Homo sapiens: one gene and its partners. The protein of the gene in region 2 interacts with the protein of the main gene of each other region in a biochemical or structural test. Each region holds a gene or a part of one and is shown on either strand. Other genes may lie near its edges.

Region 1 (7,024 bases), on a different chromosome or scaffold from region 2:
TTTCAAAAGCAATTGCTCAATTATCAAACATAGCCAGTGTGAGTTCTGAAATAAAGGTGCTGATTGAATGTGCAGCTTTATGGTGGATTTTGCTATTCAGGCAAGCATTTTAATTTTCTGCCTGTTAAATTCTGTTTTCTTTAGTTTTTCATATGTGGTTTATTGTAGCTTAGGAATAGATAACTGAGAGTATATATTACACATACAACATTCTGATATGGCAATATTTAAAACAACTTGTCTGTTTTAGAACTAGAATTAAACATAATCATCTTCAGTATTTTGCAAATAAGCTCACTGCCATCCAGAAACATTGTCAATGCATCTGTTGCTCCTTCTAGAAGACACAGTCTGTCCAGCACAAAGTTACTTAGTCCCCAGATGTCTGGAGAAGAGGAGGATTCTGACTTGGCAGCCAAACTTGGAATGTGCAATAGAGAAATAGTACGAAGAGGGGCTCTCATTCTCTTCTGTGATTATGTCGTAAGTTTGAAATGCCTGTAAACGGGGTTGAGGGAGGTGGGGACCAGGAGAACATCCTGTGTAGATGACACTTGCATGGACCCTCTGGAACCCAGACCGCCCGGTGTCCTGCCAAGCTCCATCGAAACTAAATCTAGAATGAATGTTTACTTCTGCTGTGACATATAATTGGAGACCAGGCCTGGCCTTCCAGTCACTGGATTCTAAGTTGGACTGTGAGAGTTTTTGCAGCTGACTCATTTATCAAATGCCCGGCTATTGGCTCACGCCTACATGATGCTGGGTATGTTTGTTAATTTGAGGGAAGCAATGGAATAATAATAACTAATGATTTAAAAAACAAAGTAAGTGCATTGACTGTAGTGGGGTTCTGATTTTAAATTTTTTTAAAAATTAATACCAGGAGCAGTGGCTTATGCCTAAATTCCAGCAACTCGAGAGGCTGAGGTAGGAAGATCACTTGAGCCCAGGAGTTTGAGACAAGCCTGGGCTATGGTGTGAGACACCCATCTCTAAAAAAATAAAAAATAAAAAATTATCCAAGTGTGGTGGCTCGTGCCTGTAATCACAGCTCTTTGAGAAGCTGAGGGCGGAGGATGGCTTGAGCCTGGGAGTTCGAGACCAGCCTGGCAACACAGAGAAACCCTGCCTCTACCAAAAAAAGAAAGAGAGGAAGAAAGAAAAATTAGCCTGGCGTGGTGGTGCATGCCTGTGGTCCCAGCCACCTGAGAGACTGAGAAGGGAGGATTGCTTGAGCCCAGAAGTTTGAGGCTGCAGTGAGCTGTGACTGTGTCACTGCACTCCGGCCTGGGTGACAAGGCGAGACCCCTGCTCTAAAATAATTTTTTTAAGTTAATTTGTAGAAAAGGTGTTAGATGTTCTTTGTCACATTTTATGATGGATTCCTGTTTAAATGCCGTTCTCTTTAAAGAAAAAAAAATAACTTGTGGGAGTTTTTAACCATAAAACTAGCATCACATATTTACCATGGAGAATTTACAAAAAAACAAATAAACGGAGGAAAATAAAACCTCCTGTAATCATACTACTCAGAGATAACTTGCTGTTAGATTTTGGTCTAGATTTAATACTTTTTCTATATTTATATTAAAAATATTTAAAACATATGCATTTCTTTGTCACAAACATGGTATCTTATAGATACTACTGTCACATAGCAAAACAGTGTTAAATATTCTGAATCAGAAAAGGAAGCCGACTCTCCAACTGAAAGAGGTGTTATCCTAGAGACTTTTTCTGGTGATGACAATTTATTAATAGTCACTTTTTGCTTTACTTTCTCTATTGAAGTAGTTTTTCTATTTTGTTCTACTTTTAAGGATAATATAATTTATAATGCTGTTTTTCACAGAAATATAAGAAAAAAGATACTAATTTTATAAGTTAATAAAGTTTGATCATCCCAAATCCAAAAATCTGAAATCCAAAATGCTCCAAATTCTGAAGCTTTTTGAGTGCTGACATTATGTTCAAAGGAAATGTTCATTGGAAGGTTTCAGATTTTCGGATTTAGGGAGCTCAACAAATAAGTATAATGCACATATTTCAAAACCTGAAAAAAATCCTAAATTCAGAATACTTCTGATCCCAAACATTTCAGATAAGGGTTATTCAACCTGTACTGTCAGATGATCCCAAATGAAAAATATTAATCGTTAACCAAATATCAAGGAATTGATCACATTTTACAGTTTCTGCCTAGGATTATGAATCAAGATGAAAAGGCTCTGCATGTTTAAAAATATATATTTTTATTTTCTTATAAATCTTAAATATCTACACTTAAGATTTATTTGATATGTGGGATCCATTCATATTTTGGATTCAACAGTTCTGTCAAAACTGTGGCAGTGATAGGGGATTCTTTTTTTCCCACTGAACTATCACAAAATTGGAAAAAGAGTAATTGGAGAACCCCACTGGCTTAGCCGGCCCGAAGCCCGGGAGAGGGCAGGCAGTGCTGTGGATGGGGTCATCCCAGCGCAACGCTGCCCCTGCTACCTGCGGATCTCGCTGAGGCCTGCCTTTGTCCTTTGACCCTTGGCCATTTGTTAGTGTCTCTGAGAGCTGGACTGCTGTACCCTACTTCCCCAGGGGGCCTAACTTCACACAGCCTCTGCCGCAGTGCGTGGTTGGAGGTGACGGCCTTGGTAAATCGAGTTTCCTACCTCCTCAATTATTTGTGCTCATACACTGTATATTTTTAGTGAGGTTTATATTTGGGATGTGTTTTCTCCTTCTTACCCTTTCTGGCCTTTCTATGGCATTAATACCTGGTCTCTTCTTGTGTACTTGAAAATGAATCTCTCATCATATTTTTCCTTAGTGTCAGAACCTCCATGACTCCGAGCACTTAACGTGGCTCATTGTAAATCACATTCAAGATCTGATCAGCCTTTCCCACGAGCCTCCAGTACAGGACTTCATCAGTGCCGTTCATCGGAACTCTGCTGCCAGCGGCCTGTTCATCCAGGCAATTCAGTCTCGTTGTGAAAACCTTTCAACTGTACGTCTTCATCCTGCCGACTATTGCCAGTTGCAGTTTTCCCTGCCTTAAAAATGGAGTATTGAAATTTTTAACTTTAATTTCTGATTTGCAAAATAGTCATCTTTTGTTCTTTTCCTTCTTGCTGTTAGCCAACCATGCTGAAGAAAACTCTTCAGTGCTTGGAGGGGATCCATCTCAGCCAGTCGGGAGCTGTGCTCACGCTGTATGTGGACAGGCTTCTGTGCACCCCTTTCCGTGTGCTGGCTCGCATGGTCGACATCCTTGCTTGTCGCCGGGTAGAAATGCTTCTGGCTGCAAATTTACAGGTATTGGGAAGAGAAACCCTGATATTGATTTATATTGAAAATTTAGCAGGCCAAGCAAAACAGGTGGCTGGCTTTTTCCTCCGTAAGTATGGTCTTGACATGGTCACCGATAGAAACATGGAAACATCTGCAAACTTGCCGTTACTCGTGTGTCCGATCTGACTGTTTCTTGTATTTTTTTCTAGTCTGCCCTTACTAGGATGAACTGTACACATCAGTTCATCCTTTTTAAATGAGCATGAGGTTATTTTGGGTTGTTAGGTGTTACAAACACACTAATGTGTTTTTGTCTATTAGAGCAGCATGGCCCAGTTGCCAATGGAAGAACTCAACAGAATCCAGGAATACCTTCAGAGCAGCGGGCTCGCTCAGAGGTAATGCTGGAAACACAGGTCGTCCTTGTGTTAGGACAACCCAGGATATAAAGGATATAGATTTGTACGGGAATAAATTCACAGGACAAGAAATCGATGTGCCTTATAGGTGGGTTTACTGCAGAAGTGCCATAATAGAACCTTCCTACTTTTAAAACAACCAGATCTCACTTTCTAAAGAGTAAAGGATGACCGGCAGGATCACGTCTGTGACGTGAGTGGAGGCAGTTTGCACTCCTGGTGGCTGTTTGAGAGGTAGCATTTAGAATGCCTGTATTCACTGTCCTGTGATGAGTGGGAAAATAGGTTATCAGGTTTATCTTAGCAAAATCAAAGCATGTCATCTAATTGCTAAACAAGAGTTGGCAAATCTGAGAGACATTACTCAATCCTTGGCATGCAGGACTTACATCTGCATCCTGTTGCCATTTTATGTCTTCAAAGCATTTAATCATTTAGTTGTGTTTGCAAAGTCTTTGAGAAGCCTTTGTCAGAAATCCCTACATCTCCTATGTGAGTGTATTTCCATGACTGCAGAATAAGTTAAACTTTTACCTTTTTCCTTCCCTTGCGGGGCGGGGTGGGGGGCAGGGATTGTGTGTGTGAGAGGGAGAGAGAGACAGCAGAGAAGGAGAATATAATTATCATGCTGTGTACTTTGAGCTGAAACTGCAAAAAAGGAAAAACACACAAAAATTATTATGCTTTTCAGTCTTTAGAGTACCTTGTCTATTATGCTTTTCAGTCTTTAGAGTACCTTGTTGATGGTGTTTTTAAATGGGATTGGGCACAATTAGGTGGACAGTTTGGGATGATTTTTCAGTCTGTAGGGCCAAGCTCTTTTGTAATTTGCATTATGAAGTTGTCACTCTCATAGCAGATGGCGGGAGATAAACTATTATTACTTTTTGACCCTAGACTTAGTCTTCAGTCCAGATGAGGGAGATTAAAAGATTATAAATATCTTGTGCCAGATGAGGTGATTTTATTTTGAAATGACCATGAATTCCTATCAGTTGTCTTACTGGGATATTTGATAGTGGAATTTGTGCATTTGAGTCTTAGATGATCTGTTTTACATTTATTAAGAAAGCCTTTATTAGCTTTTATACTGTGTATTGCCTGTTGCAGTGTTTGAGTATAAATGAAATTTCTGGAAAATATTAATGGAGTACAAACTGTGATACTTAAAAGTAAACTAGGGCCTGCATTTGTATCATGACCTGTTTGAGTATTGATGAGAAGATAGCTGTGAAGAAAAAGGTTTAAACAAGTGTATTTTCCTTTAAGAAGCCACTAATAGTGCATCTCCTTAGAGTGTATATTTCTAGAATCCTAGTGTGCAGAGTTTAGACTAAGACTAAAAAAAAAAAAAAACAAATTATACTGTAATTTCATTTTTATTTGTATTTTAGACACCAAAGGCTCTATTCCCTGCTGGACAGGTTTCGTCTCTCCACCATGCAAGACTCACTTAGTCCCTCTCCTCCAGTCTCTTCCCACCCGCTGGACGGGGATGGGCACGTGTCACTGGAAACAGTGAGTCCGGACAAAGTAAGTGTCCAGCGTGTCTGCATGGGAGGCACAGGGCGCTGAGTGCCTCTGTCACCTGTGGCAGATACAGAGAGTGCAGAGGAGGTGCCGTGGACCCAAGGAGTTCTGGCGCTCGGCTCGGCTCAGTGAAGCTGTGGTTAGAGACGTGGGGGGCCATCAAGGTCTGAGGGAGCCAAGCAGTGCTGATGTGGGACCCTTTTGGTAGGAGTGTGGGGTGAGTAGTTAGTGGGTGAATCAAGGAATAGTCGGCCGTGGCCTGCAGGCCCCTGACTGCACAGGCCTTCAAGCACATGTCAATGCCGTTAGCCTCCCTCCATCTCCTCATACCTTCTGGCCACCTGTGAGTTGCACTGCCACTGCCAGCCATTCTGGTATGTTGTCAGCACCTCCACTGCTCATACCTCATGGTTAGGGACCACCTGGAGCCTTGGTAGAGCCTTGGTAGAGCCTTGGTACTCTACTTTCCTGGACAAAGTTCAGCTTATGAATATGAATTTAGATTTCAAAAACCAGCAGCCCAAGTATAAGAAAGCGAAGGTTCAGTCCTGCCTTCTTAGGCTCTATTCGCTAAGCACCTGCCCTGCCCTGGTTGCTGGGGAGAGATGAGTAAAGCAGACAACCCAGGAGAGGATGGCAAAGGGGCCGCTAACCCTTAGTGGTTTAGCTATATTTGGAAGGCCTATTGGAAGTTCACCAGGTGAAGGGGGAGGCTGTGAGGGTGCCCAGGCAGGTAACAGAAGTCCAAAGGGGAAAACCTGTGGTGTGGTGAGCCGTATAGCCACAGCCTGCCGGCCGGCAGCCCTCTCAGCCTAGTGCGGTGTTCCCAAGCACTGGCCTAGGCCTGTAGCTCCAGGGATGTGAAGTCCCCTTGAACGCCGCCCATCATGTTCCCCTTATCCATTTTTTTCTTCCCAGGACTGGTACGTTCATCTTGTCAAATCCCAGTGTTGGACCAGGTCAGATTCTGCACTGCTGGAAGGTGCAGAGCTGGTGAATCGGATTCCTGCTGAAGATATGAATGCCTTCATGATGAACTCGGTACGGGGGGAGCAGTGGAGGCAAGGAATCCTCAGCTTTTCTTGTGACTTCCAAGTGGGATTTGTCTCATCATCATGTGACCCACTTGTTGACAACACATGTTGGGGACTCCAGTCTGGGCAGGGACGGGATGTCGGAGAGACTCCACTCTGAATGGGGCCGGGAAGTGGGGAGGACTCCATTTCAGATGGGGTCGGGACATGGGGGTTATGCTGATCGAGACAGAAAAGCACATTGTTTCAGCCACATTAGAATCCACGGAGGTGTTGTTTTGAAATCCAGCTGGCCCCAAGGCTGGGTGTATGGTTTGGGATGAGAACTATCTGGCCTCCACTGGAGGAACAAACACAGGATGTTATCATCTAAGCTCCATGGCCAAGACAGAATGGAAGTCAAGGTTGCGTATTTGCCGTAGACTTCAACACAGTGTCGTAATGCGTGACGTCAATAACTTGTTTCTAGTGTCTTGGAAGTTGATCTTTAGTCGTAAAAGAGACCCTTGGATGCAGCGAGATTTCCTCTACTCACACCTCTGTTAGATGTAGTGAGGTTCTTCACCCCCCAACCCCAGATGTCAGAGGGCACCCTGCGCAGAGCTAGGAGGCCATGCAAAGCCTTGGTGTCCCTGTCCCTCACCCGTGGGCAGGTCCTGTGAGCAGTGGGGGGGCCACCTCTTGGGTATGGTGCAGCCATGGCCCAAGCAGGGCTTCTTCTCAGACCTACTAGGACGGGAGAAACCT
Region 2 (7,024 bases):
AAATGTCTCCAAAGATGAATTTATCAGATTTCATCAAAAGGATTTGTTTTCCATTTCTTTTTAAACTAACAGCCCATCTATGCCCAAGAAAAATCTGAAGAAACAAACATGTACGTGAAATCAGTGATGGGTTTTTTTTTTTTTTTTAAGTCTTTTTATCAAGAAAAAGAGGAATTACACTGAGAAAACATAACGTGGGCCTCCAGCAACTCTCACAGCATAGAGCTTGCTGCCTGAGTGGTGCTTAAAGGAAAAAACTGACACAAATCCAATTTAGTAAAAGATACCATTTTTTCTAATAAATTATATTTATTTACAAAAGGTCTAATTTTATATAACTATGAGGTTCTTTTACATCAGAATAATATATAAACAGAGGTGAAAATCTGGTAATTACAAACACAGAAAATAGAAACCTTGTTCCCTTATTTATTACTCACCTTTCAGAACAAGTCCTTGGCTCAGTTGTAGAGGTGGGGAAGACCAACACCTACCGAAGTTTGCAGGCAGGAGCCCCCAAAAATGTTTATAAATAACACATTTAGATACCCTAAGGAACAGCAGTGAAGAATAGCATCAAGGAATGGCTTAGTTTGAATCTGATCTAATTCACCAGCCACTCACTGTTTCATTGTCCACGACTAGGGGCAGGGAGGATTAGCCAGTATGAATGTCAACTTTACAAGTAGGGTAATTACCATCAAATTAACAATTACCAATCACTAGCACTGAGATGGCTTTGAACTAGATCCTACTGAGAATCACAAAAGCAGTTTTGATAGTCTTAAGCTATTATAGCTAAGTGTCTTAAAATGGAGGGTTAGGGAGAATGTGTGGGTAATTAGAGCAAAATCATCTCTCACTTTCCACCTCACCTTTAAGACAGCTCCAAAAAACTGAGTGCCTGACATGTCACCATATTTCAGCCCTATTCAAAAATAGCCCAAAATGATGAGTTTTCAACTTTAAATTGTATGTTCTCACAAGTTTTGGACATGTCTGAAGTAAAAGCTAAGGTACAGTCACTGGACCTTATTTTGGGTGCACTTCAATTATGACTGTGACTTTAGTGGTGGGTTAGTATGGTTTATTGCAATGATGCTTTTTTAAGCCCTTTAATACAGATGATGGGTACCATGGATGCCAGATGAATACATATTTCAACTAGTATTTTACATTCATTCCAAAAGTGCCTATTATATGCCAGGCACTGTCCTATTCCACAAGGATATATAACAGTAAATGAACCAGATAAATCCCTGCCACCGAGGAACTTACATGACCACCAGTTAAAATCAAAACAATTGGAAGAGTAATGTAAGAATAAGGATGGTAAGAATCATCAGACTGGTATACGCCATTACCAGAAGCACAGAATGAGATTATAAGCCTGTTAGAACACAGTTCCATGAAAGTAACGACATTATTTTGCTTTCATGTAAAATGAGTGTAATTTTATATAGAGAATGTAGGATGGTTGAATTAACATCTACCTAACACTGAGAGAAATATATACCCAAGGGAAAATAAAAAGTCTCAGATTTAAGATAGAAGGAATTAATGTACTTTGCTTCATTTTGTTTAGAAAGTTTTAAAAGCTGAAGTTTTTTAGTTTGATAATTTATATTTAAATTACATAATATACTTAAATATCCTTTTTTAAAAAAGCATTCATCACTCCTCCCTGGGTACTATGTGATTACAAATAGTTTTCTCTTACATAGCATCTAAGCTTAAAAAAAAAAATCTTCATATAAAGGGAGTTACTCCTTTCTGGATGCAAAAATACGAGTGGCTGCATAGCCAGCACTCAGCTGACTCTAAGACCAGAAGAAAACCGGGAACATTTAGACAAATGTTTTTTAAAGCATATAACCAAATTATATAATTGAATGAAAACTGAATTACACAGTTTGAAAACTTTCCAGAAAAATGCACACAGGTTTTTTTCTAGGAGTTTTTACAGTTTCTTCATCCTACCATTAACTGATTCCCTTACTTTAGGACAATCCTTTTTCATGTTATAGTTGTACGAAGTGAGGCCCATAAGCAAAAGTCAAAAGATGACAAAGCTGTGACAAATCATTATCAAATTTACTGGGAGGCATAAAATGCACTTTTGAAGTTGGAAAACATCAATAACTTATATGCTGAAGCTACTCTGGCTAATGATAACAAAATGCCAGCTACTATGCTGAAAAAAATGTGGTGGGACCACTGCTTTTATTTAAAAGCATTACATTATTTAAATTCACTTAGGAAGAGTGTATACTTCATACTTGATTAGCTTAATTATCTAACTTTTCATACAAATTCAATTTTCGCACAAAGAAATATGAACTGGGAGAAAAAAATATTTAAAGTCCTGATTTTGAATAACTATGATATTAAATGTATAAGTGAATTTGATCTAATAGTTCATTAGTATTAATGACACTGGGGGAAGACAAACCCTCAACATTTTCCTAAGACTCCAAGACTTTAATGAAAAGTATAAATTCCCCTTATCTGAAAATAAACACGCTTTCCTGTTTTACCATATTTAACTCTAATAGAACCAATATTCCAAGACGTTTCAGTTTTTTACCAAATTGAAGATTTAAAAACATAACCTATTAGTTTAAAAATATTCACAGAGAACAAAATCTTATCACCTGTGCCTTCAGACTGTCAAGTATCTTTCTAGCAACTAAATCCCATTTGATGGGATCCTGAAAGGTAGACAAAGGATCACAGTCACTTAAGTTACATCTTTTATGGCAAGGATGTTGCATTTTGAATTGCAATTGGCTTACTACTATGGTTGTTTTTAAGTCAAATAATTTTCATGGGTGAACTACAGGGAAACTTTATACTGTGTTGTAGGGATTTGCGGTTATAGTAAGATTATCTCTGTAAGAAATACAGGAATCTATTTTGAGGACATGCTAAAACACATCAATAGCTTTTTATTTAAATAGAAAAATCAAAACTTTAAAGTTATACTTTAGAAATAATTCATGGAAGTAATTAATGTTTTCTACAGATTCTAAGATTCTTTTGTGAAACATCAGTAGTATATATTTGCCAGTATCAAATGCATACTTTAAAGATTTGCCACTGACTTCCATGTCAAGTGATTGACATGATTAGCAATATTAACTCACTACAATGGGACCTCTGAAAATTGAGTCTAGACAACTCCCTGTTGCCAAAGTTATTATGTGTTTTGGCTCTAATATACAATAGGAGACTAATCTCAAGCAATTTGATTACTTCACATTTTCTCCAAGATGAGTCTTCCTACAAGCCTGGTCATATTTCACAGCAGAAAAATGACTTGGGAGACAAAATGAGAAACAATCCCCTCACCCACCCCTTCAGCCTTTAAAGAGTAGACATTATATTTAATTCAAACGGGGCAAAATGGGAAAGAGACATTCTGGTCAGGCCCACTTTCAAAACTCACTAGGATGGGTAAGAAAAAAACTTTTTGTTCTTCAAAATCCCAACTTTGAAATAGGATCTCTTCAAGTGTACACATTAAAAGAATAACACAGATAATACCGAAGAATAGGTGCTAAAATTTACTTATTTACTTAAAAAATCTCCTGCACTGAAGGAAAATAGTATAAATTACATTACCAACCTTCAAAAGTTAGCATGTAAAGAGTATTCTGTCTTCAAACCACAGCCTCTCTAAAATAGTCTGTAAAAAATTCATAGGTGAAAAACAAATCTAGGGACCTCAAATGCACTGATTTATAATATTCTTAAATATTAAAAAAGGAAAGTAAACTAGCGGTGTGGGTAAGATGAAGCAAAATTTCAGGGATTTAGTACCTTTAAAGTGATCATACAATTTCTTTAGAGCTGAGCAGTTTAAGTAGAAATAAATACTAGTACACACTAGAAGAGAAGGTTTAATAATTGATAAAAATGTACAAAAATATTCAAATCAGAAATGCTTTAGAATGTGTACCACGAAGTCAATACTTCTCAGTGAGTAGGGAAGGCAAAATACTTCCTCAATAGCAGGGAAAAAAAAGCAAGAGAAAGACTGAATTTAGAAAAAAAAGACAACTGTTAAAGAAAATGTTTAAGTCAACTTTTTTTTTTTTTTTAGACAAGGATATTGCAACTATCACTTAAAGTCTGGTGGCACATTCTTTAGTAGGTCCTTAAGGCAATATATTTAAATTAATTTACAATTTGATTTGATGTTAAAGTTTTTTTAAACATCACCTCAAAATAGATGCTCAAAATAATGCCCTCACAATAGCCTTTGTAAAATGTATTCAGATGTTTGATAAAAAATAATGGTGGCTTTATATTACAGTAGTGCTCATTAGCACCACTATAATTAAGGGTCTACCAAGTTTCCAGCAAAACCACCTGTTTCTTAGGAGTTTCACCATAAAAGATCACATTGGCTTTAACCAGTTGGGTAGCGCACAAAAAAGCAATTTTTATCAGTTGCTGGTGCTTTTTTTGTACTACTATATTATCAAAAAATTTTTCATTAGATCTTCAAAATCCAGCTTCTATAAAGTAAATCAAATCACCTCATGACTTAGATTTTAGAACAAAGTAGAGACATCTGCAGTTATCAGTAAATTGCCACCTTTAATCCATCCTACAGTGCCCTGTGAAAGGGTCACAGAAAGACAGTTATGACTGTATGAAAATATGATTCTTGATACAGAATCAAAAGTTACTTTCAATTTCCTTTGCTTTTATAAAGTCCACGATAACAATACTTAAATGCACTTTTTTTTTCCTGTGATATAATTAAAACCCAGTGTTATTTCAGTTGAACTTAAAATAGAGTCCCTGGTCTGAATCAGACTTTAAATCATACTGTAAACATATATTTGGTATAATTTATTGATCATCATCCAGTTGCTCCAAAAGGGTTCTTCTGCGCTTTTCCAATTCCCCTTCACTCAGTTCGCTGCCAGAAGTATCCCAATTACCCTGAAAAGACATTGATTACAATTATAGTTGACATCAGTACTCAGAGGTTTACGGGCTGAGCCTTTGAAAAAAGAATCCAATATCTATATAAACTCTCTTCCAAAGAAACACATTTCACAGGGTTTAAAGACTGTGTGAATATGAAGCAATATTTCCATTTAATGGAAGCCAGGTATTCATTTCCTAGATAATACATTCCTTGCTAATTTTTTTGTTGAGACAGAGTCTTGTTCTTGTCACCCAGGCTGGAGTGCAGTGGCACGATCTCGGCTCTCTGCAACCTCTGCCTCCTGGGTTCAAGCAATTCTCCTGCCTCAGCCTCCTGAGTAGCTGGGATTACAGGTGCCTGCCACCAAGCCCGGCTCATTTTTGTATTTTTAGTAGAGATGGGGTTTTGCCATGTTGGCCAGGCTGGTCTCGACTCCTGACCTCGTGATCTGCCCACCTCGGCCTCCCAAAGGGCTAGGATCACAGGTGTGAGCCACTGCACCTGGCCTATTCCTTGCTAATTTTGTAGCTTCCCCCTGGTTCCACAAGTATTATCACAGAAACAGAAGTAGTATGCTTTAAGCATATGGATTCCTGTGCCAAATAAATACACAAGACTAATGAGCAGGACAAGATTTAGGCTGAACAAACAAAAATAATACTGCACCGTAAGACACAACCTTTGAAAAGTGGATAGTTCCCATATCGTCCTCTTTCATTCACTCCAGGGATTTCATTTAACCCACCATAAGCTGCTAGAAAGTACAAAGGAAACATTCACTCTTCACTTACGATGTGACTCAGACTCACCTGTTTCAGCTCTAAAAAAAAACCCACCCTATACCAACGAATCAGAATATCCAGAGATCCCTAATAGGGTTTTACCTACATAGTTTATGCTCTCCAGTGATGATTCATAGGCATTTACCCTTGCTAAACCCACAGCATTTGCATTATTAGGCTCTGTCATTCATATATACATATATTTGAAAAGGACTAATTATGTAATCTGTTATTGAAATACTAACTTTGGCTTATATTCTCCTCTCCTATTTATTTGCCCTTCCTCCACCCCAAATCAGTATTTCTAAAAGTTACTGGAATTGCTACCTTTTGAAACAAAGGATTTAATAACAGTGACAACTGTAGACATCTGTAGAATCCCAGATTTAGTCTCTCACTTAAAAAAAAAATTTGAAAATTAGGTAAAAAATGTCCAGTGGCACTTCTTAGTGACCATATCCTTTCTTAGTGAGTTAATAAGGCTATAGTTATGAAATGCTATATTTAAAAAATATCAAATTTAGGAGAATAAAATCTAGGATCATGCATGACCAAAAACTATGATATTGTGTGAAATGTACTTAACTGAATTTTCACTGTTTTCTTCAATGGTAGCACACCTGGAAAAAAGCCTATTCTTTCAACACCATCATGGTTTAACCACAGAATACATTTTTGCATTTTGAAAATACAGGCATGAAACAATTCTAAATACTTACAGAATCCTTTCCAGTCTTTTTCTTAGGCGATTTGTGTTTTGATTCTGATCTTTGTCTAGTTCTGTCTTTTTCACTTTCCCGATCTTTTTCTTTTTTATCCTTCTCTCGCTCAGCATCGGATTCTGGAGAGTCCTGTATGAATAGAAAATAACAGGTTAGCATTTTGATGAAGATACCATTGTTATATAGGTAATATTTAAGAACATCTATGTGTAACAGGTTATGTGCTCTTAGAGAGATGAAATAAAATGTGAATTGTTAACCTCAAGGATTTAGTAAAATTTACCCAAGATTCATGGGGACAGCTTTCCCTTGGGAAGGATAATATTCTGAAGGATAAAATACCACTCATGAGACTTACTACCACATAATAGATGTGTAGTATCTATTATGTAAATACAGACAGATACTACATTTCTCACCAACTCAATATAATATTGGTTTATATATGTACATAGTATACTGCTGTTAGCTTTAACACATAAGGCAGACAGCTGTATTAATAAAATTATTTTCTTGAAATTGCTGAGTAGGAATTATTTAAAATTTAACGTTAGTGCTTAAATGGTTATTCATTA
Region 3 (7,576 bases), on a different chromosome or scaffold from region 2:
AGAACAAGCTGCTCTTAGCTAATTAAAAGATTTCTGCTGATATTAACCTTTATAAAAGATTTCAGGTTCCAGGACACGTCATTTATCATGCAGAGTCCCAAGCAGGTACATTAGCAATGGAAACCAGGCTCCAATAAGGAACTAACAATTTTATCTCTGTTGTTCTTTATTTTAGGTTAAAGAAATGAACTTCTCGTTTCATCTCCACATGGGAGGAATGTTCTGGAGGGGGTAACAGCCTATTAAACTCATCTAGCTTTTTTTTTTTTTTTTCAAACTCCACAGCTTGCCTCCCTACCCTACTAGACTAGATTGCACAGAGGCAGGGCAGGCACGGGAAACGACTCTGGTTGGAAATTACAAACATATACACACAGAATGCAAGCACCATAACCCTTTGAATACACAGTGGTTTGTGCCTTGCCCCAGACCTACCTAAGGATTTAAACAGCACAGAAGTCGGAGTTCGGCTGACTGCATGACACTCTCCTATCAATCGGGTGAAACAAAGACCCAGTACTCTAAGCTTAAAGCATTCCAGGCAAAATTTTAGTTAACAGGCAATAGGAAGGTGTGATAGGCCAGTGCTAACAAGAAAGCCACAGATGGGTTTCTTTGAGCTGTTAAGACACTGGAAAGGGCTGGTATGGAAGCCCAGTGGAGCCATTAGGACAATGGAAAAGGAGGTACCCCTCCACCAGGCACTTTGCAGAGAAAACTATACTCTGGAAGCTGCCTGCACTGTTGATAGGGCTAGACGTATGATAAACAGCTAACCGGAGGGGCACCCGAGGAGACAAACTGCCAACTATGAAGAACAAAGCAGAGACCTCAACTTGTCACGTCTCAAGCTCAGATGTACAAACTTTGGGATCGTCAAGTGAGGCTCGTGTGTATGCCTGGGGATATGACTGTATTCCAGTGATCAGCCACCTAGCTGACCTGCCACGAATGGGTGACCTGTGGTGACTTACTTTAATCAACTGTAGTACTTCTAGATTGATTGGGTGATTTAAGGTTCTGACATATTCAGGCAAGAAAATAAAAGCAAGTGTTTCCTAGACTTCCTCATTGGGATTTGAAATAGAAATCCTGAAAAGCCCATAAAAGCCTATTTCCCTAAATCCTTGGTGGAAATTCCCAAAAGATTAAAAAATCCAGACCCTGTCTTATTATAGGGACCCAGCAGATTTCAAAAGACTCAAGAGGTCAGCTTAATCTGGTTATTAACTGAAATTGCTGAGATACTGATGAACATTCCAGCCATGGAACCCAAAATTCTCTAGAGTAATAATTACCTATTAGTGCAATGTTACTACTGAGGCCGTATATGCTTCATTTTTACAGTATAACAAAATGTCTAAAACTTATGAGAGTCCTACAACGTCTAGGCCACTCAGTATCACATCCAAGTAGGTATGGTTCCTGGATCACCAACCAACCCCTGAATTCGATCCTGTTATCTCACAGTCTGGGGTACTGATCCCGCACAGCAGAGACACAACGTGTGAAAGGCTCGGCAGAGCCCATTCCTGTTCCTGGAAAAATAACCAGAAGCACACATCTGCCTGACCATGAGTCAGGAATATCAATTTTGTGGTGGAGCCCATTTCTGCTGTGACCAACCCACACCCGAACACACTCGCAACAGAAGCAACCGCCACAGAGCAATTCCAGAATGAGCTTTTTCCCCCTCGGGGTCCATACTTAGCAATGTCATAAACGGTCTCCCCTGCGACAGCAATCCTTTTACACTCTTCATAATGACCTTAAGTCTTTAGTGCAAAACCACAGAAACATTGCCACTGCCATATAAAAGTCATCTGAGTTTCAGTTTGGGTGATTCGGTCATGACCAAACTGAACAGAGGATAACCTTTCAGGCACAATTAACAGGAGCCACAGCGTCGCGATGAACTTGCCCCATCTGGTACCGGTGATCCCGAGCGCTCCAGGGCGATGAGAGCCCGTTACCTACTATGTCCCACTCCACTTATGTAACTGGAAGATCGCCGGCGAAGGGGAGGGTAGGATGGGAGGGTGCTCACATTCCGAGGCCACAGCACTCCAAAGAACCTCTGAGCACCCTGGGGACACGCTCGCACCTTAGAGCCTCTGGCGCCGAAGAGCCTCGGGTGCTGCTGGACGCACAGTCCCCTACCCACGGCTCCTGATGGGAACTATAACCACCTCTTTATGATGAGTTGTGGGACCCAGAACACAATGTCTAGTCCCTTTTGTGGATAATAATCCCCACCTACTTGTTCCTGCTAGATGGGGAAAGGAGCCGGTGGACCTACTCGCTCGCGGGGGGGTAGCGGGGGGCAGAAATTCATGGAATGGGCGAGAAGGAGGGGGAGGCAAAGCCCAGAGATGGGGGTGAGAGCTCAGGAGCCCTTGTGGCGCACTCTCCCGACGGGAGGCGAAGTGCGCACGCGCGCCGGTGGGGGGGCCGAGTAACGGGAGAGGGGGCGCGCGAGGGAGGGAGGGGGAGAGCGCGATCCAGGGAGAGGCCGGGGCCGCGGGCGCGCGACGGCGCCGCGGCCCAAAGCCCCGAGAAGGGCAGGAGCGCGCGCAGCCCCGACAGGCGAAGCCCCGGCGACAGGGGCGCCCGCGGGGCCGGGGGCCGGGATGCGCGTCGAGGGCGGGAGGAAGAGGGGCGTCAGGCGAAGGCGGCTCCAGGGAGGCCGCGCCGAGGACGGTCACCCGCGAGCAGGGGTGACGGGCCGAGGGGAGAGTCGCCACCGGCGGCGGCGGGAGGGGGAGGGTAGAGAGGAGGGACGCCATCCGCCAGCCGTGTCGTCCGACCCCGCGGGCCCCTCCCGCGCCACGTCCCGCCCCTGACCCCCGCCCCCCGGCAAGGGTCCCCGCCCGCGGCCACGGCGGTCCCACTCACAGTCTCTCCTCCTCGCCTCCTCCTCCTCCTCCGCTCGGCGCGGCGGCGGCGGCGGCGGCCATTTTCCGGACGGCTTTTACCACAGCCCTCTCTCCGAGAGGAGGGAGCGCGCGCGCCGCCGACGCCGGGACCCCGCACGGCCGACGTCGCGCCCCGCCCTCTTGGCCGGCCCGCGCGCTGCTGCACCTGCGCGCCCGCGCCCCGCCCTCGGCGCCGCTGCGAGCCCGCCCGTCATTGGCTGTGATGGCCGGGCTGGGACGGGGAGGACGGGGGAGGGGGGAGTCTCAGCGGCGATGCCGTCAATTGGCGAGATTTCCTGTCCATTTCGGCCAGGGAAAAGGGGGCGGACCCCTCCAGCTGTTGATTGGCTGCTTTCGGCCGTCGTTTGGGGAAAAGAGGCGGCTTGGGCGCGGAGGGACTGGTTTAGTGGGCGGAATTTGAATGTTAAGGATTAATGGACCCTTGCGGATGCTGGGGCAAGTGAAGGCCTAGGCTTGGGACGCCTGTTTGCGCTGCTCTGAGGGGCGATTGACCCTCTGTCCACAGATGCACCGAGTGCGCTGCAATAAGCGTTTCATTGCACCCACATTTTCTCAATATCACTATCTTCGGCAGAAGCAGCAAAGTTGCCCACCCTGGAGCCTGACGTTGCCCCAGCTGAGGGGCCTTGGTTTCAGAGGCCTACTCAATGCATTATTTCATCCGAGCCTGCCCAGTGCTCACACTCTCATAGAGGCGGGGAATAAACTGACAACAAATCGCAACCCTGGCTTTCGCAGAACTCTGGCGGGGGAAGAGAGTGCATGCCAAGGCCTCGTGACACCTGTCACTGTTGGATCAGATGGTTTGGTGGAGGTGTGAATAAGGGGCAATGTTAGCTCTGCCTGGAAGATATGATTTGGGAGCTGAGATCCAGCAATTTTTCACTTTCCTAGAAGAGTTGATTTGGAGCTGAGATCCAGCAATTGTGTTTTGGGAAAATAAGAGTATGAGAAAACTGTTAGCTAACCAGGTGTTCAGGACAGGAGTGTTTGTTAAGGGGACCTTACCCTGATGCCAGTCATTATCCAATCCATTCAATGATCCTTCTGTTAGTTCTATGCTTAGCAAGAAAACCTGATTCTGATTTGGCTGCTTGCCCCCATTCATTTATTGACTACCTGCTATGTGCCAGGCACTCTTCCAGGCTCTGGATGCACGGTACTGAACAGACAGCAAACTAACATTCTTGCCGGGAAGATTCATACTAGCATACAAATAAGTATAATATATCATTTCACATAGTGATAAGGGCTTTGAGAAAGATAAACTAAGTGAAGGGGGTGCTATTTAGATATCTGCTGGTTTTCACCCTCATTTTACTCCCTCATATGAATATCTGGGGAAAGAACATTCCAGGCAAGTTCAAAGGACATGAGGAGAGACTATGCCTGGCATGTTGGGGACTAACGAGGAAGTCAGTGTTGCTGGAGAGTGGTAGGGAATGTGATTGGAAAGGCAGCTGGGGCCACTATGAGAACTGGGAGTTCATTCTTTTTTGGGGGGGGTGGGGATGGGGTCTCATTCTGTCACCCAGGCTGCAGTGCAGTGGCGCAATCTTGGCTCACTGCAACGTCCACCCTGAGCTCAAGCGATCCTCCCTCCTCAGCGTCCTAAGTAGCTGGGACCACAGATGCGAACCACCACGCCTGGCTAAGTTTTTGTATTTTTGATAGAGATGGGAGTTCACCATGTTGCCCAGGCTGGTCTCAAACTCCTGAGTTCAAGTGATCCGCCCGCCTCGGACTCCCAAAGTGCTGGGACTACAGGCGTAAGCCACCGCACCCGGCCAGAACCGAGAGTTTATTCTAAGATGAGAAGCCCTCAGAGGATTTTGAGCCAGGAGCTGTCTGATCTATGTTGCAGGTGTAGAGTGGAGAACTGGACGTGATGAAACAAAACTACAGCACAAGGCTAGTTGCAAGGCCCTGGAACAGTCTAGGAGAAAGAGTTGATGGTAGCTTTAACTAGGGTGGCAGCAGTGCAGCTCTGAGAAGTTGTGAGATTCAAGATATGTTTTCAGAACTGAACAAAAGGATTGGATGTAGGGCATAGAGCAAGGGAAGAAACAAGGATGATTCCTGAGATTGGGGCCTGAGCAACTGGGGAAATAAGGGTGCTTTTCACCATAGTGGGGAGAACTACAGGAAAAGTACATTTTCAGAGGTGCAGATCAAGAGTTCTGCTTTGGCTGTATTAAGCTTGGGGTGCCCAGTGGTGTGAAAGTGGAGATGTTGAGTAAGCCATTGGGTGTGCGATGCTGAAGTATAGAGATGCGGCTAAAGCAGTCCAAAAGTCATCACGCTGAACATCCAATTCAAGAAGCCATAAAGAAATGACAGAGTAAGCCTGCAAAAGTAGAAGAAAGAAAAATAAGGATGAATAAAACTTAATGAAATAGAAACAAATGATGGAGAGGATTGAGAAAATTTTAAACCTGCTTCTTTGAAAAGCTGAAAAACAAAAGCCAACCCTCTAACAAGCTGGATATAAAGAGAAAAGAGAAAAGTAAATTATGTTACTCATGAAAAGGTTTTATTATGCACTGTGTGTCAGTAAATTTGAAAACATAAGCAAAAGGAATACATTCCTAGGAAAGTACAGCTTACCAAAACCGACTTTAGAAACAGAAAATCCCTGTAACCACAATGAAATTGACTATGTATTTAAAAAGCTACCCATCCTCCTACACACAGACACAGACACGCAGACACACACAGACACACACGCACACAGAGAGAGAGAGAGAGAGAGAGAGAGAAACAGACCAAGAGGGCTTTATGGATGACTTCTACCAAATCTTTAATGAGTAGGCAATTCCAATCATACACAGAAAAGAAATAAATGTCTCCAAACTTATTTTACTAGACTAATATATCTACTATGATGAGCCAAGAAAAGTATGACACAAGATGTGGAAATAAGTTTTAAAATTCTAGACAAATAAACTGAATCCTGCAGTATATGATCTATCACAACCGAGTTGAGTTTTATCCTAAGAATGCAAATATGGTTTAAAATTAGAAACCCAACCTTAACAAACTTAAGGGGAAAAACACTACATAATTATTTCAATAGATGCAGAAAAAGCATTTGATAAAATTCAACATCTACTTATGATTTTTTTTAAAAATCAGAGAACTGGAGTTCAAGACAAGCCTGGGCAACATAGCAAGAAGCAAGACCCCGTCTTTACAAAAAAAATTTAAAAATTAGACAGACGTGGTGGCACACACCTGTAGTCCCAGCTCCCTGGAAAGCTGAGGTGGAAGGATCACTTGAGCCCAGGAGTTTGAGGCTGCAGTGAGCTATGATTGCACATTGCACTCTAGCCTGGGCAACAAAGCAAGACCCTGTCTTTAAAAAAAAAAAAAAAAAAAAAAAGGTGACCAGGCACGACGGCTCACGCCTGTAATCTCAGCACTTTGGGAGGCCGAGGCAGGCGGATCACGAGATCAGGGGATTGAGATGATCCTGGCTAAAATGGTGAAACCCCATCTCTACTAAAAATACAAAAAAAAATTAGCCGGGCGTGGTGGCACGCACCTGTAGTCCCAGCTACTCTGGAGGCTGAGGCAGGAGAATCGCTTGAACCTGGGAGGTGGAGGTTGCAGTAAGCCGAGATCGTGCCATTGCACTACAGCCTGGGTGACAGAGCGAGACTCCATCTCGAAATAGATGGATGGATGGATGGATGGATGGATGGATGGATAGATAGATAGATAGATAGATAGATAGACAGACAGACAGACAGACAGATAGATAGATAGATAAAATAAAAGGTTAGGAGAGGGCAAAAAACCTGAATAGACATTTCTCAAAAGAAAACATTTAAATGACCAACAGGTATATGGGAAAAATCTCGCCAGGCACCTTGGCTCACACCTGTAATCCCAGCACTTTGGTAGGCCGAGGTGGGAAGATCACTTGAGTCCAGGAGTTCAAGGCCAGCCTGGTTAACATGGCAAGACCACTGTCTCTAAAAAAACAAAAAATTAGCCAGGCATGGTTGTGCACACTTGTCATCTCAGCTTCTTGGGAGGCTGGGGTGGGAGGATCACTTGAGCCCAGGAGTTTGAGGCTGCAATGAGCCAGGATCGTGCCATTGCACTTTGGCCTGGGTGACAGAGTGAGACCCTGTCTCGAAAAAAGAAAGAGAAGGAAGGGAGGGAGGGAGGGAGGGGAAAAAAAGTTCAACATCACTCATCATCAGGGAAATTCAAATCAAAAGCCCAATGAGATACCCCTTCAATTCAGTTAGAATGGCTTTAATCAAAAAGACAAAAGAAGACAAGTTGGCAAAGATGTGGAGAAAAGGGAATACTTTCATACTGTTGGTGGGGTAGTAAGTTAGTATAGTCAACTATGGAGAACAGTATGGAGGTTTCTCAATAAATTGAAAATAGAACTACCAGCAATCCTACTACCGGTATATATCCAAAGGAAATGAAATCAGTATGTGGAAGAGTTATCTGCACTCCCATTTTTATTGAATGACTATTCACAATAGCCAGATACAGAATCAACTTAGGTGTCCACCAACAGGTGAATGGATAAAGAAAATGTGGTACATATATGCAATGGAATAATATTCGGCCATAAAAAAGAATGAAATCCTGTCACTTAAGACAACATGAATGAA

What was found. Proteins that work in one complex are often made in the same cells at the same time.
Region 1: the proteins of PRPF40A (region 2) and HTT form a complex in vitro, tested with the Homo sapiens proteins (2 studies listed by BioGRID and IntAct, with this or other methods).
Region 3: the proteins of PRPF40A (region 2) and MECP2 form a complex in vitro, tested with the Homo sapiens proteins (2 studies listed by BioGRID, with this or other methods).

Annotation. Positions count from the first base shown.
Region 1 is NC_000004.12:3,203,666-3,210,689, forward strand, and holds part of HTT (huntingtin), read left to right. Parts: intron 1-341; coding exon 342-483; intron 484-2,830; coding exon 2,831-3,010; intron 3,011-3,141; coding exon 3,142-3,318; intron 3,319-3,615; coding exon 3,616-3,692; intron 3,693-5,107; coding exon 5,108-5,246; intron 5,247-6,161; coding exon 6,162-6,284; intron 6,285-7,024.
Region 2 is NC_000002.12:152,651,443-152,658,466, forward strand, and holds the end of PRPF40A (pre-mRNA-processing factor 40 homolog A), read right to left. Parts: intron 6,579-7,024; coding exon 6,447-6,578; intron 5,700-6,446; coding exon of another isoform or gene 5,682-5,699; exon of another isoform or gene 4,957-5,681; coding exon 4,864-4,956; 3' UTR 290-4,863; downstream 1-289.
Region 3 is NC_000023.11:154,094,709-154,102,284, forward strand, and holds the start of MECP2 (methyl-CpG-binding protein 2), read right to left. Parts: upstream 3,010-7,576; 5' UTR 2,958-3,009; coding exon 2,896-2,957; intron 2,262-2,895; exon of another isoform or gene 2,105-2,261; intron 2,074-2,104; exon of another isoform or gene 1-2,073. UniProt on the Homo sapiens protein: Chromosomal protein that binds to methylated DNA. It can bind specifically to a single methyl-CpG pair. It is not influenced by sequences flanking the methyl-CpGs.